Linked DNA regions of Homo sapiens. The protein of the gene in region 2 interacts with the protein of the main gene of each other region in a biochemical or structural test. Each region holds a gene or a part of one and is shown on either strand. Other genes may lie near its edges.

Evidence for each region.
Region 1: the proteins of PEX5L (region 2) and HCN4 interact in a biophysical measurement, tested with the Homo sapiens proteins (one study listed by IntAct).
Region 3: the proteins of PEX5L (region 2) and HCN1 form a complex in vitro, tested with the Homo sapiens proteins (one study listed by BioGRID).

What each region holds. Positions count from the first base shown.
Region 1 is NC_000015.10:73,336,666-73,346,855, reverse strand, and holds part of HCN4 (potassium/sodium hyperpolarization-activated cyclic nucleotide-gated channel 4), read left to right. Parts: intron 1-1,671; exon of another isoform or gene 1,672-1,800; intron 1,801-3,047; coding exon 3,048-3,471; exon of another isoform or gene 3,472-3,586; intron 3,587-4,360; exon of another isoform or gene 4,361-4,543; intron 4,544-5,790; exon of another isoform or gene 5,791-5,843; intron 5,844-10,190. UniProt on the Homo sapiens protein: Hyperpolarization-activated ion channel that are permeable to Na(+) and K(+) ions with very slow activation and inactivation. Exhibits higher selectivity for K(+) over Na(+) ions.
Region 2 is NC_000003.12:180,031,978-180,042,576, forward strand, and holds the start of PEX5L (PEX5-related protein), read right to left. Parts: upstream 4,961-10,599; 5' UTR 4,623-4,960; coding exon 4,602-4,622; intron 1-4,601. UniProt on the Homo sapiens protein: Accessory subunit of hyperpolarization-activated cyclic nucleotide-gated (HCN) channels, regulating their cell-surface expression and cyclic nucleotide dependence.
Region 3 is NC_000005.10:45,257,332-45,267,521, forward strand, and holds part of HCN1 (potassium/sodium hyperpolarization-activated cyclic nucleotide-gated channel 1), read right to left. Parts: intron 9,923-10,190; coding exon 9,758-9,922; intron 5,480-9,757; coding exon 4,590-5,479; 3' UTR 1-4,589. UniProt on the Homo sapiens protein: Hyperpolarization-activated ion channel that are permeable to sodium and potassium ions. Displays lower selectivity for K(+) over Na(+) ions.

The DNA.
Region 1 (10,190 bases), on a different chromosome or scaffold from region 2:
GCATCTGGCAAGGAGTAAGGAAAGGTAGTCCAGAAGCCAACGGCAGTTCCCAAAACCCAACTCCTCTCACCTCCTCCAGAAGCAGTTTCCCGGCCTCACCCTTCTAGGCCACCGGGATCCCATTTTTATGGATACCTGGGCTTTTTACGGATACCTGGGCTCATAGGGATGGTTTCTTACACCATTGCCAATTGCCTTCTATCCAAGCCTTGCGCTCTGACCAGACCATGAGTCTCTGGAGGTGAGGGCATCTGTGTACTGAGGCAAATAGGTCTGTCATCTGATTGCTGGAGGGACCTCCTGCTACTGGCTTTCCTGGGTCTATTACAGGCTCCTCTGTGATCCCACTCCCAGCAGATGTTTTGCTTTGGCTCTTCTCTGGGAGATTTGATCCTCCCTCTTACCTCTTTCCTGCAAATTTATTGATTTTGATGATTTATTTACTCATTTCATAATGTAGCTGGGCATAGGTCAGAGCATTTGACAGAAATCAATTGATTTCCTCCTTATGACAGTGCTGCTAGTCAGGTACTGTGGTTATCCTCATTGAGCAGATAACAAAACTGAGGTGTGGCATGGTAAAGTGACTTGCTAGTAAACCATGGAGCAGGAATCGAACCCTGACTTCAGGCCCATCCCTCCTCCCACCATATTATACTGTCTCTCCAGCAGCTCTGTGATGTTCCAGGGTAGTGGTTTGTGGGAAAGAATGATCCAGGATCCCGACCCCAGCCCAGATCGAGTGCTGGAAATATCCCTGAGCATCTGGAAGCTCAAGATTGAAACCATTAGTCAGAGTGCGAGGAAATGGGTGTTTTTGCCTTATGCAATTTGGTTTTATGAAGACCACAAAATGCAAACATTCTCCTGTTAATTACTCTCTCAAATTTGGACTGTAATTGAGGGAACTAGAGCTGGGGAGAGTGTAGAAACCCGTTGGAGTGGCAGGCCCGCCCGAGTCAGCATTCCCAGCCGCCTTGCACCCGCTCTGTTAATTTTAGAAACTCCTCCAGCCTGGGTGTATTATTAGCTTTATGTACAGAGGGCCACATAGCCCTCAGTGGCCTTTCTATGCACAGTTAAAAAATTTGTTTTCTTTTGTTTTTCCCAGGAGATTAAATGAAGAGGGATGACAGCAGAGTGTATAGAGGGGTGTTTGTGCACTGTGTGTGTGAATGGGGATACCTGCGTGTGGCATCTAATGAGTGTACACAGCTGTCTTTGAGTGAGGTCTATGTGGCTGGGTAGAGCATGCACGGCTCTAGGGCACCCCATAGATGCTGAAACCATCCTCCTGGGGCCCATGACTCATTAGCAGGTGTGCTGCATTCTTTGTAGTAAAGTGTGAAGCTGAGGATGGGTCCTCAGGCCTTAGTTGGGTTCTCTCAGCTGGCATATGGGTACTGGGGCCACAGGAAGGAGTGGTGGGTCATGGGGTAGAGAGGAGCTGAAGTTGGCCTCTTGGCATCCGGCCTTATCCCCCATAAGGCCCTGTCTTGAGGCCCTGAAGAGCTTGGCTTTCAAAGGAGCTGCAGAAAGCTGACTCTCTGGAAACTGCCCTTTGCCACACAGTGTGATGTAGGACAGCCATCTCACCCACCTTCAGCAAAACAGGCCCTACCCTCTCCTTGAATCACAGCCCCATTTTGAGTCTGGCAAACAAACAAACAATTTGCTATGAAGTAATTTCTTTGCAACCTGGAACTCTGCAGGCAGGGGCACTTTGGTTTACAGTGAGACCCTCTGAAGACTCGAGGAAAGCTTATCTCTTTCTTTCCCACTTCCTTCCTCCTGGCTTCCCTGCAGTAAAGAATCAAAGATGGTGGAAAGGTTATTTCTCCTGGGAGAAGACATGCTTATTTCTGCCTCACTTAATACCTTTATCTGTTATTGTGTAAATGTCTAAATTAATAGCAGAGGGAAACAGCTCTGCAGTGCAAGTTTTTGGTCTTGGGGCCAGCCCTGGGATGGCTGGTGCTTGGGCAGGGTCCCTGGGAATAACTGGCCATGCCTTCTGGATTGGGGTCTTGGCCACCTGTGTTGTTTCCACACTCCAGAAGGCCCCCTGCTTGGTGAGTTGGGAGAAACCCACCACAGACCTGTGAGTTGGTGTTGTGCCTCCTCCTCATGCTGCTCAACTTCTCCAAGGCTTTGCCCTGAGGCTCCCTCTACAAACGACTTGAAGGTGCCTGAGGCCTTAGGAGAAATGATTCTGGAAGCCCTGGGCTGGTCTCTTTCTATCACATTGAGTGGTATCTCACTGGTGCCTGAAATCCCCCCATTAATTATTCTTGTTTTGAAGCTATCTCTCCCCCTCCACACCCCCATGTTAGGATGCAAACCTCTGAGGGAAGGAGATGGTCAGACATTTTCTGATTATAGGGGATGGACTAAAGGTGGATGCCAGAGAACCAGTTTGGGAGAGGGCCAGATCAGAATGATAGGACTCATTACACAGTGAGGAAACTGAGGCCCAGAATAGGGAGGCCCTTCCGGATGTCACATAGCATGTTGATGACAAAGCTGGGGCCGGAGCCTGGGCCTCCTGCCTTCCAGGCACCTGAGTCATGTCTGTACCTCCCCTGCTCTTTGGTCATGGTCTGTGGAATGTCTCCCTGACAGCCCATCTCAAGCCACAGCTGACCCTCAGGGAGGATGGGGCAGCCTAGCCTGAGCCTGGGGTGGTGTGGGGTGAGCTGCTCCTTTTGCTAAAACAGCCTCTTGCTTCTCTCTGAGTGTCACTGATTTGCTTTTCAGCCTGACTCTTACTGCGGGCTGGGGATGGGAGGAGGAAGCTTGTTGTTGGGGCTCGGGGAAACTCACAGAAGGGCAGCACGGAGGGTATCCTTAGTGAATGAAGAGCCTCTTATTGTGTCATTCCCTGTGCCAATCTCCACATCTTGCCCTGGTACCCATGTGCCTGTCTTCCTGTCTCAGAACCTCCCAAGACTTCTCTGTCCCAGATGCTGTCCCTCAGATCTTCCTCCCTTAGTCTGTAACTTGTCCTCTCTCTCTTCCTGGCGACTGACCCCTGTGTCTCTGGGCAGATTTTACTGGGACCTGACCATGCTGCTGCTGATGGTGGGAAACCTGATTATCATTCCTGTGGGCATCACCTTCTTCAAGGATGAGAACACCACACCCTGGATTGTCTTCAATGTGGTGTCAGACACATTCTTCCTCATCGACTTGGTCCTCAACTTCCGCACAGGGATCGTGGTGGAGGACAACACAGAGATCATCCTGGACCCGCAGCGGATTAAAATGAAGTACCTGAAAAGCTGGTTCATGGTAGATTTCATTTCCTCCATCCCCGTGGACTACATCTTCCTCATTGTGGAGACACGCATCGACTCGGAGGTCTACAAGACTGCCCGGGCCCTGCGCATTGTCCGCTTCACGAAGATCCTCAGCCTCTTACGCCTGTTACGCCTCTCCCGCCTCATTCGATATATTCACCAGTGGGAAGAGGTAAGTGGTCAGTGCAAACCTCTTGGGGGAAAGGCCACTCCCCACAGAGGGAGTGAGGAACTGGCAGGGAACCTCAGATAATTGAACATAGGCTGTCAGATTGTGGCAGGCACACCTGCTCCAAGAGGACAAATACTAGTAAGTTCTTGACCTCTTATCATGTGCTGGATACTTTACATGCAGTATCTCAATGAAGTGTGTAACAGCTATAGAGGGAACCATATAGGTACATGTATATACTCATTTTTCACCTGAAGAAACAGACAGAAATATTAAGTGACTTATACAAGGTTGCATGATTAGTAATTTGTGAACCTGGAATGTGAACTTAAGCCGATCACCTCTAGAGCCCACATTATTAACCACTGCGTTATGTTGTAGGGTTTGTAAACCCATAAACTTGTTGGGGACAGGCAGGGAATAGGGATGGGTGAAAAGGGCCAGTTGGGGGACAGTAGACAGTGTGGTGGATGAGAAGAACTAGAGAACATCTCCGTTATATTGGGTGGCCTCTATGCAGCTCCAGCTAATTTTTGTCAAGTGGGAATGGGCCCAGGGTTGCTAGATCTATAGCATTATGAGAAATGGAAATCTGGATTTTTATACAAATTTTGTTGGCAACTCTCTTAGTTTGGGTTCTTCCTGAGCAGAACCTGAGACAAAGATTTGCATGAAAGGGATGTTTTGGGGATGCATTCCCAGGAAAATCTGGTAAGGGGACTGGGGAGAGGGACAGGGAAAGGCAGGAAGCCAAGCAATGGTTGGACATTGGAGGGTGTCCTGTGGATGGCTGTTTGCCTCAGCCCTATGGGATCTGAGGATAGTGTGCGCCACACCTTGGAGTTGTCCCAGTCAGGGCAAGGGAGTTGGAATGTTTATATCCCCTTACCTGTCAGTCATTGGTTCAAGGCACTGCCAGCCCTCAGCACTCACAGCCAAAGCAGTTTCCAGCAGCCCGGGCAGGCCTCTGACAAAAGGTGCGGCCGCTGGCTGTAGAGAGTGAAATCACGCGGGCAAGTTGGAGTCTTGTGCTCAGAAACTGTAAAGGGATCCTAGGGGCTGTGAACACTGGCTACAGGAGGAAAATAAAACATTGAAAAAGAACTGGGCGGACCAACTGCATTGTGAACAAACCTCACTCATCCATGGGCTGAAGCAGTCATCTGCAGCAGAGGAGCTAAGGGCTTTGCTGGGAGGAAGAGCAGCTGACCTTGCCAAGTGCTTCGGTCTGTGTCTGCCACCCACCCAAGTTACACAACTTGGCAGCAGCGGCAGGCAGGCCAGCCTGGAGGGCCTACTCTCTCTGTGAGACAGCCCACCTTGGATCCCTGCCACCTGTGGGCGGGACAAGCTTCCATGGAGGGCCATTTCCCGCTCCATCCCTGTGCCGCGTGGCTGACTTCCCAGCCTCCAGGACCCCCTGCTTGCCTGGCAGAAGTTCCCATGTTCAGGACATGAAGCCCCCCATGCTCACCCCCAGCAGCAGCCTGGGCCTCGACTGGCAGCACCTATGGCTGATGGTCAGAGGCGTCATGAACGCATGTGCCATAGGAGAAGTGTGTGCACCAGTTTGGCAGCGTCCCTCCATGGCAGAAATTCTCTTTGGCTTGGAAAATTCACATTACTTATGCTGACAGAGAGGGGCCGTGACTCTCCCAAGGTCATGCAGTTAGACCTCTGGTAGAACTGGGACAGAATCCAGCTAGCCCTCTTGGCCCCCAGCACATAGTGTGGGCTGTCCCACCCCGGTGTAGTGGAATGGCGCATTTAAGACCCAAGTTAAAATCCCGGCTCCACACTGCCTAGCATGTAGCTTTGGGTCCACTTTGCCTCTCTGTGCCTCAGTCTCTTTATCTGCAAAATAGGTATAAGTTGTACCTGATGTTTATAAAGCCTTAGCATGAAGCCTGGTGCAGAAGAACTGTTTAATATGTGTCCCTCCTGGCCGGGCGCGGTGGCTCACGCCTGTAATCCTAGCACTTTGGGAGGCCGAGATGGGTGGATTGCTTGAGGCCAGGAGTTCAAAACCAGCCTGGCCAACGTGGTGAAACCCCGTCTCTACTAAAAATACAAAAAATTAGCCAGGCGTGGTGGTGGGCGCCTGTAATCCCAGCTACTCGGGAGGCTGAAATAAGAGAATTGCTTGAACCCAGGAGGCAGAGGTTGCAGAGTGAGCCAAGATCGCACCACTGTACTCCAGCCTGGGCAACAAGAGTGAAACTCCGTCTCAAAAAAATAAATAAATAGATGTTATTTATATTTATAATATATATATATTTATACACACACACACACACACACACACACACACACACCTACCTCCCTCCCCACCAAGTTGTCTTAGTAACATTTCCTTGGTTCCCCATACTTAGCTGTCAAGAGAAACAGGGCAAGATTTATGATCCTCATGTGTCAAGTGAGGAAACTGAAGATCAGAAAGGCCAGCCGCCCCAGTGGTAGGGCTTTTGGCCTAGGCCTCCTGTCTTCCTGTTCCATGCACTTCCCGCCTTCTCAGATGGAAAGGGAATGACTTTGATTCTACGATTGTTTCCTTTCATGGCTGGGGCCCCTCCATGGGGGACTGGACTTCATTCAGTCCAGCAAGTGCTTGCCGGGCACCCACCTGTGCTGGCCTGGGTGGGCGCTGGGATCAAAGGACTAGGACGACTGTTGGCAGAGAGTGGGAGGGCAGTGGCAGGGGAGGAGATCTGTGCAACAGGTTGAGTTGGAGGTGCCTGTGAGACAGAGATGTGCAGAGATGTGGCAGGTGGTCTGAGCTGAGGGCTGAGAGGGGACAGTGACTCTGGAGGGTGCGGCTGGGTCCACTCTGAGGGGCTGTGAAGGAAAGATGGAGGCGTGTTTCCCCTCATGCTCTGACACACTTGTCTCCTGGTTTCCGTCGCAGGTGGAAATGTAGGACCAGGTTGGCTCCCTCAGACCCTGAGAAACCCCCAACCTTCTGCATGTCTTGGACCCACAGCTAGACTGCCATGAAAAGCAGAGACACGCCAGCTCTTTCCCTCCTCCAGCATCCATTCGTGTCTCCAGGCCTCAGCCTCCCAGGGGCTGACCTTACTCCTCCAGGGCCTGAGGGCTGTGGTCTTTTGTAGGAGTTGGCAGAGATGCCAGTGGCTGGACAGGGTGAGTCGTGGGTTGGAGCTAAGCTTGTCTTTCACGTCCCCACATTATGCATCCTGGGAGCTCAGGCCCAGGGCTCCTGTCCCCACTGCCACCCTGGCCAGGCCACCCTCTTGGGCACCCAGAACTGGTCAGGCGCTGGTCCTGGCCTTTCTCTGGGGGAGGCAGAGGCCCCAGGAGGCCTTGAGTCAGGCCTCTGAACTAGACGTGCCGCCCCATCTCGTGGGGAGGAAGAAGATCCCAGGAGGCCAGATGGATGACTCTCACCCTTCCACACACAAACCTTTATCTCTCCTACCAGCTGGGAAGAAAATTGCTTTGAGCTAGTTTCTGCCGGGCACACTGGCCAGCCTAGGGCTCTCACTGGACCCCTGAGATTGGACTGGGGTTTCCCAGCTGGCCCCAGGAACCCTGTCTCCAGGACCATAGCAGGCCACTCCAGCCCGGGGGCTTCTCCCACCTCTGCTTGGCCCAGAGGCAGCAGCAGAAAGACCCTTTGGAGCCCTAGGTCCACATGAGAGCTGAGGAGAGTATTTAGTACAGAAAACCCTGCCCTAATCTCCTCTTTCAAGTCCCTCTATGAGTCTCTTTCCTCCTTTGGGCCTCAGTTTCCCCACTTGTGAGGCACATAATGATGTTCTCTGAAGCTGTGGCTCCCTGGGGCCCAGTCCCCAGCTCCCATCTGCCTTGGCAAGGTTTATGTTAGCTGATTCTGAAGACCTTGTTGTAGCTCACGGAACGTGAAGGAGGATGCCCTCGGTTGGGGCTAGGGAGCTTGCCTCCCACAGACTGGGGAAAGCTTGCCCCAGGCTGCCTGGCACTGCAAGAAGCTAGACTCCTGACCCCAGGCTTCTACTGCCTCCCCCAGCCGGGCCCAGACCAGGCCCCCAGGAGATCTCCTAAGTGTTGGTGGCAGTCAGGCAGTCTTGTGAGTCAGCGCAGGTGGGCCACCATCTTGGAGGATGCAAGCCTCTTGCCTCCATCCTGGGCGATCTGGGTCAGCAGACTCCCTCCCGAGCCTCTCCAGCCATGCCTCCTCCCTCCCTCCGAGGTGTGAGCTTGTTCCAGGCATGGAGGCTATTGTTAGAAACCATGGTTACCCTTCTTTGGACGTTACCCTGCAAGGCTCAGCACTCCAGTGACCCATCCCAGAAGTCTCTCCTCTCCCTTGGCAGCCTGAAGTGGCCAAAGAGGGGCTGGAGGCAGAAGGCCAGCTGGGGCTGCTGTGTGGCCTCTGATGAGTCCCCTCATCCTGTAGACCTTGATTGCCTCATCTCAGAATCAGGTGCTTGGCATCTGCGAGAAGTGGAGATGACACAAGGAGAGGTCCTGGGGCGTGGGTACTGGCCCTGTCTCCTGCACCCAGGATGGGACCCGGCATGACCCTCAGTGCAGCTGCCTTCAAACTGCACCCAGCATGCATATGCAGCAGCCTGTTCTGCCAGGCCTGGGGTTGCTGTCTTCAACGCAGACACTTGTTCTTGAGACACAGGTGGAAGTTGTTCTTCCATGAGGAGAAAATGAATCCACAGGAGAGGATTCAATCAGGCCCCAGGAAGAGGCCTTGGTGGAAACAGCAGCAGCCAGACCTCCAATTTCTGGCCTCTCCTTGGGACTGAGAAATCAACTCTTTGTTGGGAGGGCTGGGAAAGAGAGGGAAGGAAAGGAACCAACATGTCCTGAGTGCCTACCATGTGCTAGTGGTGGATATGATCTCACCTGACCCCCATGATAGCCCTGAGATCTGGCAATTACCCATTCCACAGATGAGGAAACTGAGGCTCGGGGTGGAAAAGGCAGTGGCTCTGTCCTTGCACTGCAGTTGAGAAACTGCAGAAGGAGTGAGAGCAGGGCTTCCCCAAGTTCCATGTGTGGCAGAGTGAGCTGCCTGGACCGCCTGACGGGCAAGGCTTGTAGTGGCCTGGAAATGAAGGTGCTCAACCCCTGCAGTCAGAACCAACATCGTAAGAGGGAGTTCTAATGAAATATAAAGAGCAAGGCAAATATTTGCCTGGTGCAACTGACTCTCCGGTGGCCTGTGGCCCCAGCCAACAGTGGGGACACACCAGTGTTTAGCAGCCTCTCCCAGCAACGTCCAGCCTTGTTCTCGGCAACCACTTCCCAGGTGCTGGAGAGTGGTGCAGGTGAGGTGAGTGTCCTCAAATCTAGGGCACCCCCTAACCTGAATGGATGTGCCCCCACCAGCTCTTCCCAGGCAGCTCAGACTGTGCGTTGTTGGCGCTCCAGCTTTGTGGTGTCTAAAAACCACCTGAAACACACCTCTCCAGCCCTGCCACCTGCACCCACCACCCCAGTGCCCACAGTCCTCCTCACCGCAGTTCCAGGCTTCACCACCACCATGCTCTCAGTAGGACACGGAAGTCTGTGTCCCCTGCAGGAGAAGGCACCTTGGTTCTTCCCACAGGGACAAGGGTAGGTTCCCTGTGGGCTGCATCTGCCCAGAGCGGGTACCTTTTTGTTCTTCCACTGTCTACACTAGCAGGAGCCCTGCTGACCACCATTCTCGTCACTGTCACCATTGCCTTCACCTTCATCACGAAGCCCTTCTCAGTTCCTGAAACCTTACCACATGCTCTGTGCCGTGTTCATTGCTGAGATCACGATAAAGGCACAATTAGACAAGGACCTGATCTTAGAAGAAAAGGAGTAATGAAAAGATAAAGGCGATACAGAAGGAAAGGAGGTCATTGCAGGAAAACATGCCACCTTCGATGCTCTGTCTTTAAGGCCCAGCGTGATCTGTCCAAAGGAGCAGTTACTGTGGCCTGTGACAGTCTGGGACTCTTTCTAGCCATGCCCGGAGGCTTCCTTGAGCTCCCATATGGTACCCACTCATTCATTTAGATGTACGCGCATTTATTCAGGCAATCAGCAGATATTTTTGATGCCTGCTTGTGCTAAGCATGGAGGAACACAGAAGTGAGAAGTAGAGAGGAGCCCTGCCTCGTGCAGCAGCACGCAAGTCAGTGAATGTCATTTCAGATAGTGAGAACTCCAGGAAGGAAATTCATCAGGGCAAAGAGTCACAGTGAGAATGGGAAGGGAGAGCCCTTGGCTGTGTCACACACAGGGATCCAGTGTCCTTCCTTTCCATGGAAGTGGCTTTTGAGCCAAGACAGGATGACAAGAAGGAGCTGGAGGCAGCACGCAGGCAGATGGAAGAGCAAGCCCAGTACTGAGGGCCTGGGGCAAGCACGAACTGGCCTGGGGCATTCAAGGACATGAAGGAAGGCCGCTGTGGCCAGAGATGGCTTTGGGCAGAGTCAGGGAGGCCGGTAGTTGGGAGCCGAGATGCCGAGGGCCACAGTTGGCATTTGGAGTGTATTCATGGGTGCAGTGGGAAGTCATTGGAAGGTTTATGGTAAGAGAGTGACATGGTCTGATTTATGTCTCCAAGAGGTCTTTCTAGCTGCTTGGTTGAGAGTGGCTTGGAGGGGCGGGGAGCCTCATCAAGAGGTTGGGGCTGTCATCTTGCGGGTGTTTAGATTGGGGTCATATTGGGATTGGAGGGAAGTAAATGGCTTTGAGATGTCCACTTAGGCAGTAGAGCCAAAACCACC
Region 2 (10,599 bases):
AAAGACTATATTGTGTTTCTTATAGTAAGTATATAAACTATTGGCCAGTATGGCTGGGGAATGAGATTTTCAGATTAATCAAGTATTCTGCTAATGCATACCACAACTATTATAACTTTCAAGTGTTAAAAGCTCAACACTACATCCATACCAAACATGATTTGCATGTGAATATACAGGAAGACACTTCAGAATCTTGCTGGAGCTTGTGTCATAATTTTGATCAACAGCTTAAATGTACATGAATTTGCTTCAACAGAGTTCTAGTTAATATTTCATCATACTTATGCTCATCATTACCTATAAGATGACATTTGAGGAAGAAGACCAGGTGCCACTTGAACTGAGATAACAAAGGGGGAGAGGAAGGCAGCAGCAACCACTGACCAAAACAACACAACAAACCCCAGCACTGCTCACTCTCCTGAAAATGCCACCCCCGTTCCAACTCTAAACTAATCTCAAAGACTCGCCTCTGAAAATGTGTGTATGTGTGTGCGTGCAGGTGGTTTATTGCTATTAGTCATATCTTTGCTAGCAGTTAATGCCTTAGCAAAGGGTTAAGAAAGAAAGAACACAGGATGGAAAAGGGTGAGCCGGGAGCTGCGGTTCATGCCTGTAATCCTAGCACTGTGGGAGGCAAAGGCGCGTGGATCGCTTCAACTCAGGAGTTCAAGACCAGCCTGGACAACATGGTGAAACCCTGTCTCTACAAAAAATACAAAAATTATCTGGGCATGGTGGCATGCACCTGTAGTCCCAGCTACTTGGGAGACTGAGGTGGGAGAATTGCTTGAGCCAGGGAGGCATAGCAAGCAGTGAGCCGAGATTGGGCCACTGCACTCTAGCCTGGGGGACAGAGAAAGACCCTGTCTCAAGAATTAAAAAAGGTGGTACCAGGAGGGAAAAAAGTGGATCTGTTAGAGAGGTGGAAGTACCCATGATAAATATCATCTGCTTTACAGTTTTGCTGAGGGCCTCAATTATGATAACCTACTGTTTAGGGTATTGAAAACAACGTTCTACAGTCTTACCTTCAATTGGTTTCTTATGTATTTTGTTTCTAGTGAACCTAAATAAATCACCAGGGGCGAGATCTAATGTACTAACATAACTTAAATTACCTAAGCTATTCCCCTTTGTAGAGATTTTAAGAAAAATCTTAAGTAAAGTCATATAGAAAAACAAATGCAAAACTCCCCTGGGGGAAAACAAATGGCTACTTTTTGGGCTGTTAATAATCTTACAATTTTTGTCATTTAAATTTTCCTTAGTTTATGTCTTGTGAAGCTAGAGGGTGTGGAATGATTCCCCAGACAGCTTGAATAAGTCAAAAAGTCTGCTTTGAATGCCTAAAATAAAGATCAGTTACAATTACAAATAGATTTTTTGTTTGATTGCCTTCTGAAATAACTTTCTTTTATTAAAAAACCCATTGCTGTGGATTCTTCAATAACAATTCAAAAAATCTTAGTAGAAAATTGAAATTATATTTCTCTGTATTTATACCACCCCAGAAATAAAACAGCTAGGTTAAGAAAACATTGAGAGACATGTAATAATTTCCTCTAACTGGAAATGTTAACTCAAATGCACATAGGCAAATAATCACCTCAGCCCTGAACATACAGAGGTATTGGTGGAATTAAGACCATAGGCCCTCAATGAGCAACAGAGTTTTGTCAGAACCGATGCTAAAGTATATTCAATCATCATCAGTGCCCTTGGTCAAAAGAAAAAAATAAGTAAATCTAAAACAGTCACAAAAGAAGCAACCTTTGCTTCATTTACTGGGGTGACTAACTCCCCTTGGAAATAATTGGTAAGGCAGCTGGATAAAAACATAGCTCCAGGACCCTGCTCCTAAGAAATATACCTGCGGCTTTTACTATGAAACCAAGAAATATCTGTTACTCTATGCTCTATCTGTAATAGATGCCAACTTTTATTTTCTAATGAACTAGCAGAGCAAACCAAATGTGTGTTTTTAAAAGTCTGCGGTTTCTAAAATGAATTCAGATTCTACCATAAACCAGATGAATTAGCCATATGTATGAGAATTAATAGACTTTATCTGCAAAATCATTAAGTTGCAAAAACAAAGGCACCACAGGAGTTTTAAATTAGACTATTTTTAAGTCTTCCTGAGAACACCTGCCCCTACTTCAAACTGCTAATTTACAAAGCACTTTATTTTAAAGTCTCTTGGATACAGAAAAGAGAAGAATTAGAATGCATAGCAAAAGATTGCAAACATTTCTGTTTCACTCTTGTTTTAAGGTATCAGTCAAGTAACATTATGTTTCAAATTAACTCCAAAGCTGGCAGAAATGTTAGTAAATCTGCTTATCCCTGGTCCACTTTACCAAATATGGATTCAGATTTTAATCATACACATTTTGGAGTGTTTGGAATGTGTTTCTTCTTATCTGTGATTAGAGTCAGGTACACACAGGAAGATGATAGTATCTCTGATAAGGAAACGTTATTTTGTCCATAGGCTAAATAATATTCTTTGGGGGAAGAGATATGAGTTTAAAATGTAAGCCAACAAGTATATTATGAATCAATCTGTCATAGGTATTTTTTTGTTGGGGGGAGCAGATGCCCATTCAGATCATCATACTATTGAATAACTACTAAACGTACCTACTAAGGCCTCGGAAGTTTTATGCTTAACATTAATGGTTAATAGTAAGTAGGAAAAAAGTATTATGCTCTGAAATTTTGGTGGATGTATTGATTACAGTCTTTATTTAGTAATGTTTTAATTTAAGCTTGGCAGCAAAGATTTGTGAGTTTTACTGCAAGTCATCATATTTGCTGTTACAGCAGTGCACAAGCAAAAGACATTAAGTTGGGAGAATATGCAGAGTCTTATATTTTGTTTATTCTTTCAAAGTGAAATTAAACCCTCAGACATTGTTCCAGGCAACTCAAGTTTCAATAACATTCTCCTTTGAGATATTGAGAAAATTGAGTTAAAATTGTTTTTGGGTGCATGAATTTACCATATTGTTGCTTCGATTCTTCATTCACAGTAACATATTTTTTAAGCAACAAAACAATACTGTGCAAAGTTTTTGTTAATTTCCCCTTAGTGGTCAATTGTCAATTTTGTGTAAATGAACAATTTTTTGAGGGTTGACTCTATTAAAATCTTCCTGTTTTACCCTTGTGAAGAAACTGTTTAAAAAACAGATAATATATAAAATTGTAAGTATCATTCTTGGGTGAAGATGAAGCATAAAACTATAGTAATAATTCTTTGTTAATTTTTTCAGCAGTCATTATTTGAATTCTTCTATGTTACTTAACTTTTCAATTGGTGTAGCTTTTATAAGAAACATGCAGATCACATTGATCATATATAATATTTAAAAATATACTTCATTCACTACTTTTTGTCTATCAAATGTGATATAATCACATTAATAATTTTCAAAACAGGATGATGTTAGTCATACGGGAAATCTTTTGGAATTCTGGCACTGTATATTGAGAATTCTTATAAAAATTGAGACTATGATGAAATATTGTGTTTTATTTAAAAATGGATTATAGTCCAAAAGAATTTCCCTAAGTTATGGAAATTAAATCTGGGTAGTACTAAGTCATAAATATAACAACATATTTATCTATTTCCAATTGCTCTAAAAGACACAGAAGCAAAATCCTCAGTATTCATAAATGTTATACACCAGGATAAAGGCATCACACATAATGATTGTATTTGACCATCTTTGGAATGGAAAGGAAGCCCAAACATCAAACCTGATGACTAAACCATTTAGGTGCGATAAAGAGTCCAGTTCATACTTTAGAAAGCTGAGTTAGTATTTTATTTTTCTCCCAAAGCATATATCTGCCTTTATAAGAACCAACCAACCGTATGAATGAGAACTGGAGTCAAGGTTAAAGTAATCTTGCCCAAGAGAGTAGAGTGTGTTTGCATCGGAAAGAAGCAGCGGCTCAGCTCAGATGAATATTAATAACAACCGGAGGCAGCACCTCCCCTGAAAAACATTAGAGCTCCTTGGACATGTGTTTGAAATTCATCCTCCCAAGTCATCCTGTGACTATTGGAGTAGATGGCAATGTCCCATAATGTGAAGGGGGAAAATACACTATAAATCGTTTTTTAAATATAACACTTTAAAAAATGAAACGAAAGTGACAGAGTGTTCTAAGTCAAGCAACCTTTTCAGATGGTAAAGGAAAAGCTTTGTCTTTCCTATTATTGTTTGCCCTTCAGTTGACATACATGCTGAGATGCATCAATAGGATTACAACGGAAACACGGTCATCTCTAGGGTTTCCTCTGTTTCGATTCCTTGATCCTGTTTAAAGAAACAGGCTCAGGGAATGCACAGAAAACAAACTTCCCCAATCGAAGTTCTGAGGTCTTCCCTCCCCTTCTCCCACCTTCGGAAACCGGTCTAGTTTTCCCGGCAGCACCGGACAGAAATGTCACGGTCATGTTGCATCACTTCACTTGTTGAGCTGTGCGAAGGCAGCACTTGACCACAGAAACTTGGTGAACCGCCTTGCTCTTAAATTAGCCCCCAAGAATTCTCTCCAGCCCTATAGAAATGTCTTACCTGCATGTGTCCCTGGTACATTCTGCTTCGGTTTCTTCAGGGCTCCCTGAGGCCACCGGATGCTTTTCCCCCGTGCTTACTTGCCCACCAAAAGAGGGGAAAAGGTGGGTGCACAGCGGGTTCTCAGAGGGTGCTCCTGAGCCCCCTGGAGCTCCGGGTACTCGGCCGGCCGGCGGCCACTCGGCAGCGCTGCGGGCTGCCGGGAACTGTTCTCCGCTCGGGGTGCTGAAAGCGGACGCGGGAGAGCGCGCAGAGAAGGCGAGGAGCCGGGTCGGCCAGGCTCTCCTGCAGGCGCGGGTCCTGCTCGCGGGGCGTCTCTAGAACTCACTCCTTCTTCGCCGAACTCTTTCTCGCTTCCTGCCAGGTTGCCTCATGTCTCTCTCTCTCTGAGCTGCGAACCCCCTCCTCCCAGCCCTGACGTGAGCGCCTACACCAGCCGCCGCCGCAGCTGCCGAGCGGGGCGCGCGCCGTTCTCCCAGCCGCGTGCCTGCCGAGAGGCCGCGGGACCGGGCACGCGCGCGCGTTCCCAGGGGCCTGGGAGCGGCCCGAGGGCGGCCCCGGGCGGTGCGCGCTCCCCGAGCGCGTCCTCGGGGCTGCGCGCGCGCGGCGGCAAGGCGAGGTGCCGGCAGGCGGTGGTCGCGCTGGTGTACAACGCCCGCAGCAGCGCGGCGTTCAGGTGCGGCGTCGGCGGGCAGGGCGATTCTAGCGGAGAGGATGGCCGGCCGGAAGAAAGGCGGGAAGACATGCATCGTCTCTCCGGGGGCCATCCACCGCGGCTGAGCCTGTTATCCTACAGACATTATAGGCTGAGTGCAGGGGTTGCCGAAGAGTTTACTTCGGTTCTGATTCAGCTCTCGAAAGTTACGTCCGTATCACCCGTTAAATAAAGACTCCCCGCTCCCCTCATCCCCAGTTCATCGCCGAGCATTCTATTTAAAACGGCAAACCCTAGTCCCTGAGGATCTGGCATGTTTTATTTTTTTCCCTAGCACGTAACATCACCTAACATCCTTTATATTTTCCATATTTATTTTATGTACTGTCTGTCTCTCCCTCTGTACAATGTTATTTCCATGAGATCAGGGACTTTTTTTTAGGGGGGTGGAGTGTTGCACTTGGTTTTGCACGTGTGTGCACAGTAAGGTATTTAGTACTTCCTGACACATGGCAGGCACACAATAAATATTTGCTGAATGAATAGACCTTTACTACTATACACTTACACACACATACACACATATATGAAGAGTGCATTTAAATATGTCTCAAGTTGAGACTGGGTAGTTTGATGTGTCTACACAATAAATGTTCATATATACACACACACCACGGGGTGGTGTATACTGTGATTACCTAATTTTGTTGGTAAAAACATCTCCAATTCTACAGGCCCCTCATATTATGTACAGCATGATATCCCCAAAATATTGCATATAGCATAATATGCTTTTTATAAAGTTTAAAAAATCCCTAGAAATGTCAATGTGTATTCATATATTCATATACAACAATATAAAAAGGAAAGCAGTGGAACAATGAATATAGTGTTCAGAGTGTTGGTGACCCTGGGTGAAGGGAGGCAGGGAAATAGATGGGGAAGCATTTCACTTGAAGTTTAGATGTTAATGTCTTATCTTCTATGCCGGGTAGTGATTCATAGGACACCTAATATCCTATTAAAAATTACTGTGTAACTAAATAAAATAGAACCATGTATGGACTAATGAGGAGAATGTGAAATGAACAAAAGGATGTGAAATGAACCAATTCAATGCATCTGAGGTCCTAAAACAACCAACCAAACAAACACAAAAGGACTAAGACCTGTAAGCAGGAGACATGGATTCCTATTAGATTCCACTAGTAGTTACCCTTGGACAATTTCCTTTTACTACTTTGGACATCAGTTTTTTCATGTCTAAACTCTGTATAAAAAACTTATTTTTTTTACCCTGAAAATAGAGATATGTTCATAAGCACTGTAAACTGTAAAATGTCATCCAGTTCTTATTTTATTGTTCTTTATAGGACAAAGCACAGGACTTGGAGTCAGCAACAAGAGGTGCTAGTTCCATCTCACTACCTCAATGCTCTCTTGGGCAAGTGTACCAACTCTCTATTTCCTCAATTTTGAAATAAGACAAATATCTACCTAGTGTGCTGCACAGAGCTGCTGAGGACTGAATGTATGCAAAGGAAGTTGTAAATTACCAACCATGATATATGAATATGCAAACAGACTTTTTTTTCCCAGTTCAGAAAAGATGAGGACTGATTTTCTGAGACCTCAAGTACTGCAGATTTTAAAATGGTACTAATTATCATATAATACTATCATGTTATATAAAAACTGGGAAAAGTATAGTGCTTTGATTTAAAAGTACTAGAAATCTGTGAAGTAACAATAGGGTCAAAGTTTTCCAATCCATTATATGCTTGTTATTATCTAACGGCAGGTTCAAGGAGCCAACAACCATAAAAGCATTTGGATCAGAATGGCAACTGCCTAGTGTTGAAGCTAGAACTCAATATATTCTCTTCTTAAACCTGAGTCACTGATTTCGTTACTGCCTACATTCTCAAAATCTCAGGAGTGAAAGCTTTCCTTTGTGAAGAATTCCTCTTCACACTTATTCCTTCTGTTAGAAGATAAACTAAGGCACATTAAAATTTTAAAGGGTTTTTTGAGCAAATAGCCATTCATGCATCAGGCAGCAGCAGACCGAAAGCAGTTGGGGACTCTGTCGGAAGTCGTTAAAGGGAAAGATTTTATAGGGTAAATGTGGAAGCAGAGCAAAGAAATTATTTGGTTAAAGAGGAATACTGGATTTATTTGGATCATTCTAATGGAAAGTCCATAGTTAGAGGTTAGTTTGTGGTTTCTGATTGGTTAAGCTTAACTTTCACTTTCCTAGACTATTTCTTAGACTAGGAATGAGATTTGAATTATCTTTATTTTCCTCAGAAACAATGCATGTCTAATAAGCTAGGTCCAGAAAAATATTTTACAAAAGATTTATTTTGTAATTAAATTTGAAGACCCTTGTTACTCAAAACGTGGTGTGTGGACCAGCAACATCAGCATGTCCTGGGAGCTTGTAAGAAATGCAGACTCTTGGGTGCCATTTCTGACCTACTGAATTAGAATATGCGTTTCAACAAGATCCCCAGGTGCTTGTATGCACCATAAAATTTGACCAGCACTGTGGCCTAGAAGGTTTATTTATTCATGTAAATATGTGGCAAAGCTAGCTCTTGCCTTTTGCAGTGATAACACATGAGCAACCTCAGTACCACTAGAGAAGAAGAATGCATATTGCACTCCATTTATAAAATAATCTCACTGTATTTTGAGTGGTCAGTGGACTTGGCATAAAATCATAGCACATTCAGCTTTCTTACAGCAAGAAATGTGCTTAGTACCACTGCAATTTTAATCACTGTAATACAATTAAATAATTGAGAGGTAGCAGTAGAATCTATTTTGTATTGACAAAATTTAATTTTGCTTATTAGTAAGCGAATCCTCCTGCATTTCAAATGGGTATTGAAAATTCAGGATTTATTAAATCTTTGAAAAAACTTAGTAAAAATGATGAGGTTAGTGTTCTTGTGGACTTAAAAATCAGAGATAAGAGTCTTTTGATGATTCAATCATTCTTTCATAATCTGTAGAATTCAAACTCTGGTGCTGAAAGATGGTGCAGGAGAGAACAAAAGTCAAAATAATTGTAGACCAAAATTAAAATGACTAATTGGTATTTGTTGTTCAATCAGAAGGAGGAACATTTTGTTAAAGTTTGCCCACTTACCCTTTTTGTCTCTTCGACACATAGAATGAGATTAGCTGGTGTTTCAGGGCATTTGATCTGGAAAAAATTTGGGAACCCCAGGCTGCCAGGAAGAATTATGAATAATAAGAGTATGTGGACTCTGATGACGAGGAGATGGCAGCAATGTTCTTCCAAATGAACAAACAAGCTGGATGCTTCAGAGCTGGGCCTCCTATTAAACCAATTTAAGAAATTACACTATATTTGTTTACTCTTTAGGACAATGTTTTTTCAGTGATCCAATATTGCTTTTAATATTAAGTGTACTTTCTAGAGTTTCTTATTCCTGGTGAGAAAACATTTGTGAACAAAAATATTTCTTGCTTTTGACTACTCCTTTCTACTGTTGCCACTGCCATCCTAGCCCAGATTCCCTAAACCTCTTATCACTTAAAGCTAGTTTTATCACCTCCGTTCATCTCCTACATCAACCTGTCATATACATCGCAGCCAGATTAATTTTATAAAGGTCAGCATTAATCACAATGCTGCTCAGGTCAGAAATCTTTAGTGGCTTTCCATTGCCCACTAATGTCCCAAAACTTCAGCTTTTTATTCACAGTCATGGAATATCGTTTGCTGCCCAGAGCAACATCCTCTTCTAGTGGCAGGAAGCCTCTTTTCTCAAGGCTCTTTGCTTTGAATAACCATCTCTTCCTCACTCTGGTCCACTTGTGTGGTAGGAAACATTTTACTACCAGGCTTTGGGGTTGCAACATAGCACCCAGGCTGAGCCAACCAGTGCATTCCGTCCCCATTGGTCACAGTTGGAGATGGGCATATTACCCACGTCAGTCAATCAGGGAAATGAACTCAGCTCCAGGACTACTCGGGAGCAGATTGATTCTTCCTCTGGACTGGATGTTCTACTGATGTTAGCTTGGAACTGCCAGAATCCAGCACACCAACTCTGAAAAGAAAACCAACCTGGGGGAATAATAATCCAGGCAGGCTCCAGGAGACAAAATTTGAGCCACTAAATAAACCACACTTAAAAGCTAGTCTAAAGTAATCTTTATTTCAGCTAGTGCCATCTCTTTTCTGGTTTACTGGATTTTTGGTCACTTGCAACCAAAAGAATACTTATGAATACAGTGGCTTTCCATAGACTGACCCTGTCTTTTTTCAGTTCTGTATGTTCTCTACCTTTTGCAATAACCCTGCTTTTTAATTATTCCCCAAAGTCAGCCCAAGTTATACTCATACTCTTGCCTCTTCTTGGAATGTACTCTCTCTCCCCACTCCTCTTGAATAAAAGCTCATTCATTTATCAAATTTGGTTTCCAATTCCATTTCCTTCCTGAAGCCTTTCTTCATCCTCTAACTGAATACTTCTCTTTGCTGGGAACTTCTTTATGATACGCCAAATGACATTTTTTTAAATTATAGTTTTTCTTTTTTTGTTGTTTTGGAGACAAACAACAAACTGCCGTCTATTGTTTAGACGGCAGTGCGGTGGCATGATCATAGTTCACTGTAGCCTCAAACTCCTTGGCTCAAGTGATCTTCCTGCCTCAGCTTCCTGAGTTGCTGAAACTACAGGCATGCACCACCATGCCTGGCTAATTTTTTTAAAAACCTTTTTTGTAGAGTTAGGGTCTTTTTATGTTGCTCAGGGTAGTCTTGAATTCCTGGCCTCAAGGGAGCCTTGTGACTCATCCTCCCAAAGTGCTGGAATTACAGGTGTGAGCCACTACACCAGGCCCCCAAAATTTTTCTTTTGTTTAGTTATTTCTGTGCTTTTTAACTCTCTATTAGACGTAGGCAGATGTAGAGACAAGAACCTTGTTTTATTCCTTTTTATTCTTAAATAACTTATGAATCATGTATGCAGAAATACCGCCCAAGGTAATTTATAGATTCAATGCCATCCCCATCAAGCTACCAATGACTTTCTTCACAGAATTGGAAAAAACTACTTTAAAGTTCATATGGAACCAAAAAAGAGCCCGCATCGCCAAGTCAATCCTAAGTCAAAAGAACAAAGCTGGAGGCATCACACTACCTGACTTCAAACTATACTACAAGGCTACAGTAACCAAAACAGCATGGTACTGGTACCAAAACAGAGATATAGATCAATGGAACAGAACAGAGCCCTCAGAAGTAATGCCACATATCTACAACTATCTGATTTTTGACAAACCTGAGAAAAACAAGCAATG
Region 3 (10,190 bases), on a different chromosome or scaffold from region 2:
CCCAATCAGCTGTGCTCTGTTAAACATCCACATTTTAGAAAAGCATGCTTAATTTTTCACTAAATGATAATTATTTCCCCAGCATTTAATGTATTACTCATTCTCTCCACATCAAGGACCTTGTAAACAAATTCAGAGCATTATCTGTAGGTTCTTTTAAGATCATCTTTAAATAATTTTCAAGGTGGGATGCGGGGAGTGTCAGCAAGGCTTCTCTCATTAAAAAACCTTAAAATCTCCATTTGTCCCTGTCAAAGCCTGAATTGGAAGCAGGGTCAGCATTAGGGTGAGACAAGAGATGCAGGGTTGTGCAAGTGCAGGGTTGTTAAAAAGGAAAAAAATTGAAATTGCTTAAGAAAGTCATTGCTTTTGAGGGGTAATAGCAGGTGTACTTCCCTAAGTACAATAGCAAATCTTTCAAAGAAAATTTCTATCCTATTTTTCCTTGAAAATAACCATATTGAATACAGTTATAGAACTGTATTTTATTTATTTGTATGTGCTACAATTTGGTGCATGCAGCAACCACAGTTCCTTAAATTTTTGGCCATTGTTTTCAGGACTCAAAATAGCTCAGCATTCCATTCTATAAGGCCCATGTTTCTTTCCCATGGTACAGTATGAGTACTTTTTAAAGTAGGTGAACATAAAATAAAAGTTTGCTAGTTGTAGTGCATATGAACAAAATAACCACATGGGTTTTATGGCACATGTTCTAAAAAGATAAAGATATAATGGAGAGATATCTCATTCAAACAGGTTAACATTATAAACAGTGCAAGTGAGGGCCATAGAAGCAAAGTAACATAGTAAAATTAACAAATATAAAAACCTAAGCTGAAAGAGGAGGTATGGAGATTTTTTAAATAGTCCTGAAAGATAATAGAGATTGCTCATAATTTGAAGTAGACATAATTCAGGATTTGAAATAAATCATCTAAAATTTTAAACATGTCATATTGTTTAAATCATTCTCTGTCCTATAGGAATGACGGTAATAACTTGACTATGTACTTTGTAGTGTCCTGAAAATAGTATGCTCAGTTAAGTTTATAAATTGCAAAATAACCATCTCTTTAAAGTGGAACAGCATTCATCAGGGAATTGTTCACTTATGAAGAGGTCATCCAGACCTGGAGACAAGCTACTTTTTTGGTGAATAGAATATATTGCCATTGCTACTATTTATCCTCCTTGTTTTCAGGAATGCTTCACTACTTATTCTCATTATGATAAACTCTATCTCAGGCTTTTAGGTATCATTTAAAACCCACTTGTGTGGGGAGGTTCTATCACTCTCCAAATAACTTTGCAGGGCCCAAGGCTATAAATATGAATATATTTATACAAACCTATTTTGTTATAATAGGGCCTTGGGCCTACTATACAAACCTATTTTGTTTAAGGCTATAAATATGAATGTATTTATATAAACCTGTTTTGTTATAATAGAGCCCAAGGCCCTATTATAACAAAATAGGTATGTTATAAAACTATTATAACAAAATAGGTATGTCATAGAACTATTATAACAAAATAGGTTTGTATAAATATATTACAGGACAATTATTTACCATTATTACAGGAAAATTATTTCTCATCTGTATATCCAATAATTACACAAAATGGTTGTGTTTTGAAGTTGGAGAACAACCACATTCTAAAAAGGCACAGAGCAAAAAAGAAAATAAGCTCATATTTTACTATACGAAAAAGGTAAACAAAGAAGTGGTTGAAAAATCCATGTTCTATTTAAAGTCCTCTCATTCCAGAATTATAGAATATAATTGATTTTATGTGATTATCAAGTATAAGCTCTTGGAAATTTTATGATGTAAAAATAGAGGCAAAGCTGTACTCATTAATAAAATAAAACATTTGATTAGCATATATTGATAAAATAAAATATTCATGATTGTAGTTTATTTTTTGTTGAATTTATTAATAATCTTTATATATATTTATATATGTATGGCTTTGAGCAAAGACAAAAGAAATACTCTAACTCATCCCTGATCATACAGTTGTTGTAAGAATCAGCTATTCTATTATCTTTCCAGCAGCAGAAAGACCAATGAATAATACATTTCTTTCTGTACAGATTAAAACTCCATACATACGGGCTTCACTATGTACAGAGAAAAGAGGTCACTTTTCAACTAGCAATGGACCTTTATATTACAGGAATGTGAGTCATTTTTTTTTCTTAATCTAAGTATATATACATTCATACATATATGTATATAATTTACCCTGTACCTTTTTATTAGTTTAATATATAAACCTTAGTTTTTTTGTCCATTCTATTACAAAGTGAATAAAAATTGTATGGTTGCACTGAAAGACCATGCATTTCAATTTTGCTTATGTTTCCCAATAGTGCTCAAAATAAAAAACCAAAAATTTATATATATAAAAATATTTCACTACCAAATCCATTAATCCTATCAAATGTAAACCTTTAATAATTTAAAGGACCAATACGTAATCTTAATAAATTGAAGTTAATTCTCATATTTTAATAAAATAAAGGAGTTTTGTACTGATATGTAAATGGTCTTGCAGCTTTCCCATAGGTTCTAGGTAGACTGAACAATCCCTTTCTTACAACAGTATTCCTGACATGCCATCATATGTCACCAGCATATTGATGATTACATTACATCGACTAGCAGTTAATTACTTCCACACCAGTTGGGATTTGTTTGAAATTAAACATAACAACTCATTTTGGTATTATAGGTATTATATCCACAAAAGGCATAACAGGCAGCAAGGATCCACTTTAGAGTTTCTGCTTTTGTTTTTGTTTTCTGTCCTCAAGTCTATCTGCAGGCCCTGTCCCACATAATGTGTGATCTCTGTATGTTCTTAAATGTATTGCCAGTGCCAGAGATACTGAAGACCTCCACTTTAAGTCATGCTCTTAACTTGGGTTATTTACCGCAGCCAGTTGTTAGGAATCTTTCAATTGTGTTCCAGTCATACTCCACATGTGTGGGATGCATTAGGCACAAATGATTACTAAGGGAGTTCTTTGAGAAGAAGCAGGTGCTCACAGATCATGTAAAGAGTTAAGAAAACAGACAGACAATGCTCATAGACGTTCAACTTTACCCCTGCTTTCTGTCACCATGTCTGTACTATTTTCAACACATTAAAAATGACAAACCTCCTATCTAAGGGCTACGTTAGTCACCACATGCCTTAAAGTTTACTAACCATTTAGTTACAATATACATAGAGCAAAATGTGTGTTCCCAAACAGACGTGATGCTGTATTGAATTTATTTCTTTAAATTAATACCATAGTAAATTACCAGCTACAGTGAAGACACAGACAACACTTAACTCCAAATCAAGCTGTGGTTTACAAATAATTATTTAAATAATAATAGCAATAATATTAAATAAAAGTGAAAACCTCACTTCTAGACTTAAGTCAGAGATCCAAGTCAGCCTTATAGGAATTATAAGATAGGCAATTAATGAATTGTTATGCTTTTCTAGAAACGAGAAATACTGTAAGCCTTTCTCTACAATGACTGATTTGAACCTATTTTTTTTTCCCCAGAAGCATGCAGGGACTATTTTCAGATGCTTGATTATGGCAAGAAGAAAGAAAAGTAACGATTTTTGGTGTAATACAAGCAATTTGTAGATTCGAGCATACAATTTTGCATAAAACATTGCAGGTTAAAATAATATTGTAGGTTTCAAGCCATTGCATTACAATTGAATAATTCTCACAATCAGGTTTTGTAAAATTTAAAACTCTAAGTTTTGAAGTGAAGCAATAAAACTAAATTCTTAAACAATGACTTTTACCTTCATACAACACAGAATAGCTATTTTTATTTGGGTTGAAAAAGTTATTTACAACTAACATTGATCGAGTCTTGGTAAAAGTCCGATAACACATGAAGACAAATATTAATTTTCCCTCAGCTTTCTGAAAGATCAATGAACATGTTTGAGGTTAGTGATATTCTTAACAAACAGTGGCAATGCTAGTCTCCTACGGTGGCCAAGCAAGTAGTGCATTCTTTAACCTAATTTGAAATTGAAAGCACCGAAATACAATTTAGATCTATAAAATGGGATTTGTTATTTAATTCTCCACCATTAATGATTAACAATTTAGATGCAGAGACACAGCTAATGAAAGAAAGTTTTGATTGGTGCTATTTACTAGTTCATTTGAGTTGCCTTTTTAAAATCAGTTTTGTTTCCATTGAATCCAAGAACTCTTCATAAAATAGAGAAATATACATATCAAAGGACTTAAGTAAAAGTAGGTTAGAAATAAATAATCTTACAACGACATTTTAAATCCTTTAATGATTTAAAGAAAGGAAGACATATAACACTGAATGCTAAACAGGTCTTTTGACCCTCTCTTGGGAATTTAGATATATATTTTATAGTATATGTATATATATTTTTACATTTCACGTGTAGGCCACAGCTGTCTAAAATATCTCTTCATAGTAGGCTAGAGGGATCTATCAGGAGATAGAATAAAATAAGATCTGAGTATAGTCTCAGTTTATGAGAGTATTTCTTTCTGCTTTGACAATCAGCAGGGATCATAAATTTGAAGCAAATCGTGGCTTTTCTGCGTCTGGGTCTGTGTTTAAGACTGAGGAAGATTCTCTTGGAAGAGCAGCTGCTGGTGGAGGGGGTGCTGGAGGGACTCCTCGGTTCGGGGGGATGGCTCCCGACGACATCTGTCGGAAGAGGGTGACGCGCTGCGGGACAGTGCTCCTGCCCCCTGCCTGAAGGCCCGTTCCGGGGACCGCCGTCACGGGTTGAGGGATGGAGGCCAGGGACTCGCCCACAGTGGGATGAGGTCTGGAAATCAGAGTGGACACCTCATGGGGCAGCGAGGGCTGCGAGGCGGAGAGTGGCCTGACTTCCCGGGTCAGGTTGGTGTTGTGAAGCGCCTGCGTGCTCTTGTGCACTTCATTTTTCGGCGTGGAGCTGCCAGGTGTCTGTGGCTGCGGGGACGGCTGCTGTGGCTGAGTCTGCGGCGGCTGGGACTGCTGTACCTGCTGCTGCGGCTGCTGTTGCATGAGTGACAGCTGGGAGGCGGTGGGGGAGGCATAGTGGAAAGTTCGAGCGGCCAGAGGGCTCTGTACAGGAGGGCTGCAGACCGCGGTGGTGTAGGAGCAGGGTGACAGGATGGCTGATGGCTGGGGGGTCTGTGTGCTGGGACTGGGGGAGTGCAGGTTGCTGTGAGACAGGCTGGTCGCTGTGTACACCGGTGGAGATTGTGTCCTCATGCGGGAGGTCGGGGTCGTAGTAGACGATGTGGAATTCAGGGTTGTCATTTGAGGATAATTGATGGGAGCGATTGCCTGCACCATCTCCCTGTCATGTTTCACAATCTGCTTGAGGATTTCGTTCTCCTGATTGTTGAAAACACCAGTGTTCAGATCCTTCTGGAACTTTTGCAGAAGAATTGAATTTTTCTTTCCTGTCAGCAAAAGAAAGATAGGCACTTAGAAAGCCTACCAATGACTGATGACAACGCCAAGTGAGAGTGGCTCCTGCAAACAGAAGTATAGCTGTGCTTCACAGGAGAGGCTTAAAAAGCCAGTCACTCACCTTTACACACCAAATACCAATGTGGCTCCTACCTTTCACACTTCCTGTATTTCTCTGGGAACTCTTACCTTCTACTCAAGTTGAACGGCCTGTAATATGGCAAAGAGCCACTTTACAGAAGAAATGGAGATATTTAACATGAGGGCCACCTTGAAGAATGGGGGAAGAAAGGGCTTTTGGAATAGGATGGGCTTGGAATCAACATTTGATTTTAAAGTTACTTTTTCAAGAAAGGACCATGGAGACATAAGCGAGAACATTTGAACACGTACTATGTGATAAGCACTCTACAAAAGACCTTAGGTAGATGATTTTATGTAACCCGCGACCCTGTCAGATAGGTGTGTTCATAATCTCATTTTACCTGAAAGGAGATCAGGACATGAGAAGACTAAGAACAGTGCCCAGGAAAACAAAAAAAAAACATGGTTGGCAGGTAACAGGGCTGAGAAAGACCATATACACAAAAAAGTGATTGCACATCCTTGCTATGGAAAATGAACCAACTGCCCCTGTCTCATCTGTGTGCTTGCTAGAAACTCAGCCTCCTGGGCCTGACCCCACTTGCTGAATCAGATGTTGCATTTTACTAAGATCCCCAGGTGATTCCCAAATGCAAATCTGAGGAGGACTGTATCAGGTTTTGCTTTTGACCCAGTGTCTTACACCAGTCATTCTCAGTCCTAGTTGGATATTTTTCTTATCTCTGGAGCTTTAAAAAATACTAACATCCACTTGTTCCCTACCAATTAAATCTAAATAATCATACATGGGCTCTGAATTTCAGTAGTTTAAAAGCAAATTTCCCCAGGAAATTCTTTTTTTAAAATTTATTATTTATTTATTTTATTTTATTTATTTATTTTTTTGAGACGGAGTCTCGCTCTGATGCCCAGGCTGGAGTTGCAGTGGCACCATCCCAGCTCACTGCAAGCTCTGCCTCCCGGGTTCATGCCATTCTCCTGCCTTAGCCTCCTGAGTAGCTGGGACTACAGGTGCCCGCCACCGTGCCCGGTTAATTTTTTGTATTTTTAGTAGAGATGGGGTTTCACCATGTTAGCCAGGATGGTCTCCATCTCATGACCTTGTGATCCACCCGCCTCGGCCTCCCAAAGTGCTGGGATTACAGGCGTGAGCCACCACGCCCAGCTTCCCCAGGGAATTCTTAAATGCAGCCAAGACTGAGACTGACTTTATGATCTTTCCTCTTCTGAATGGTTGTTGTGAGGACCAAGGGCATAGTGCATTGCAGGCTCTCAGCTCCCTCTAAGACCTCAATAAATTTTACCTTTTCCTGCCATCATCTTCTGAGTGGTTTGCAATACAGCTTTTCCTGCCATCATCTTCTGAGTGGTTTGCAATACTAGACAGTCTCTGGCATAATAATTATTAGAATGAATAGTGGATTGGTGAAAGAAGGGGAAAGTAGTGACTTTTCTATGGCATCATTGATACACTAATCTCCAAGTGAATATGGTAACTGAAAAGTGAATCAATTTGCGATATTGCTAAATAAACTAACACATTAAAGGTAACAAAATATATTTTTGAAGATAAATATGTATTGTAATTTCATTGACTGCTAGGAATGCAATCATTTTAAATGACTGCCAAAATAGTTACCTCTCCCTACTTACAGACTGTCCTAATTTCCCAAAGAACAAAAACTCCTACATTAGTAATAAATATAAATGCTTATTTAGCATATTTGCTTAACTAACTGCAGCATACATCTATATGCAATGGCCACAAAACCGAGAAGCATAATGTTTCTTTCTGATTATGTGAACAGTCAAAATATCTTAATCTAAGTATCTTTAACCTTGGGAAAAATAATGTAACTTTTAATACACTCTTACTATGTTATAAAGATCAAAAATTCAATTGCTTAGTGCCTATTAGAAATTGCATTGCCTGTATTGATTACGAACCATTTCATGTAAATATTGTTATAAAAATTAACTGCAGGCTGGGCGCGGTGGCTCATGCCTGTAATTCCAGCACTGTGGGAGGCTGAGATGGGTGGATCATGAGGTTAGGAGGTCAAGACCGTCCTGGCCAACATGGTGAAACCCCGTCTCTACTAAAAATACAAAATATTAGCAGGGCGTGGCAGTGCACACCTGCAGTCCCAGCTACTCAGGAGGCTGAGGCAGGAGAATTGCTTGAACCTGGGAGGCGGAGGCTGCAGTGAGCCGAGATCACACCACTGCACTCCAGCCTGGGCAACAGAGCAAGATTCTGTCTTAAAAAAAAAAAAAAATTAACTGCAATAAGTTAGATGAAAGTGAAGCTGTATCAGATTAACAGAAATTATCTAGTGAAATATCCTGATTTTAATGTTTTCTCTAAGGATGTCTAGCTGGTTTAGGAAGAAACTCATTGCTTAGAAATTAGTCTCTGTCTCTAACATAAACACTCACACACTACAAAGAGGGAAGTTATTTTCCAATTAAGTAAGGATGCCTTCAGGAGTGCCTACTTCTTTTGTGGGTATTGTCTCCCTGAATGAGTAGGTCTTGTTAAATCTCTAAGATTTCAATATGAATTTCTAATACGTTTGTTATATCTAATGATGATGTCCAAATACTGCCTTTACTTCTAATCTATTTTCAGATCTCTATGCAGTCTGCTGTCCTACTAATATAGAGAGAAAGGAAGATGTGAATGTGAAGTGCAGAAAAAAAGCCAACATAACAATTTATCAATCTGAAGTCCTTACCTTTAATAAGAATGAAGCAGTTGAGGTACCTCCTTGTTTATCACAAGTGATCCCAGCCCCATCTTTTTTGAGTTCATTTATTCCTTCCTCCCTTCCTACCTCTCTTCAACAAATATTCATTGTATACTAGGTACTGTGAATGTAATGGTGAATTAAACATGAGCTCTACATTGACAAATTTAGCATCTCTAGAGCCAGTAATAAAAGCAGTGCTGTGATGGGGGAGCTTCAGAGGCTATAGGAGAATGCATCCAAGGAACTGGGCTTAGTAGGGAGTGGGAGGTCAGAGAAGGTTTCTAGAGGGAGGTGATATCTAAACAGAGAGAGGAAGGTTGAGCAGAGTCGAGCTGACCAAAAAAAAGTAGAGAAGGGGAGGGTGGCAAAGAGGGTTTAGGTGTGGAAAATGAATGCATACTACCTTACAACATAATGTTCCAGGATATCTAGGAATGTTAACAGCAAGCCAATCCAAGCTAACTTTACTATGGCAATTATGCAAATCTTCAAACTAGCATAACTAATAAGGCCTAATGGTTGTATATATATATTTTTTTATTTGGTAGCAGAAAAGACTTTAAAATATGTTGATGTTTGCGAGGTAAAGCATCTATGTAGGGCATTACTATCAAGGCTTTTTTTTTCTGCTTGAGTCTATATTACAAACATTTTATTATGTCTCTGCTGAGATTAATTTAAATGTGCAAATTTTCAATTCCTAATATAAAGATAAAATGTAAAGTTGATCCAAAAATACAAAAAAAGTGATAAAACTTAGTTTGTAATATAGACTCATATATCATATTTTTAGTTCTATTTCAATGCTATCTAGAATTTTTATCATTGCTTTTTACCTGAAGATTCAAATTGTTTTGGCATCAGTCGGGAAATCAGTTTGTTTAGCTAGCAAAAATAGACATTAATAAATAAACCCAGAATACTTAGAAGAGATAGATAGGGACCCAGATCTCTCAAGAAATACGGCTACAGCTAATTGCTATTTCTACACAAATTAACAAGCAAGCTATAAACTGGCATGTGGGATTTTTTTTTTTTTTTTTTCTCTGAGACAAGGTTTCACTCTCTCTCCCAGACGGGAGTGCAGTGGTACCATCTTGGTTCAGGGCAACCTCCACCTCCCAGGCTCAAGAGATTCTCCTGCCTCAGCCTTCTGAGTGGCTGGGATTACAGGTGCACGCCACCACACCCGGCTAATTTTTGTATTTTTAGTAGAGACAGGGTTTCACCATGTTGGCCAGGCTGGTCTCGAACTCCTGACCTCAAATGATCCACCTGCCTTGGCCTCCCAAAGTGATGGGATTACAGGCATGAGTCACCACTCCCCACTGCATTTGGGACTTATAATTGCAAACCTGTATTATGCCAGGAGATTAAATTTTATATAAAGAAGGTAGAAAACTAGAGTACCTATTCGATCTAGTCGGTCAATGGCAACTGTCTCAAAGGCTCTCCTCATCATTGGATATTCCTCCAGGACCTCGTTGAAATTGTCCACGGAAAGTGAGTAAAGACGACAATATGTATCAGCTCGAACACTGGCAGTACGACGTCCTTTGGTCAGCAGGCAAATCTCTATAAAAACAAACAACAAAGAAGAATGACTTGTTTGATCATTTTCTTTTAAAAGCCATTAAGGCTTCCCACAACTTAAAACAAGTCTCATGGTGTGAAAAAACAATTATTAGCAGCATTTTCTATTATATCAGCAAATTCCTTCTGACAAAAATATCCGACTGCCAATACTCAATCTTAAAATAATGTTTTTTTGTTTTGTTTTGTTTTAAAAAAAAAAAAAACAGTTGAGAAGGCCAGGCGCAGTGGCTCACGCCTGTAATCCCAG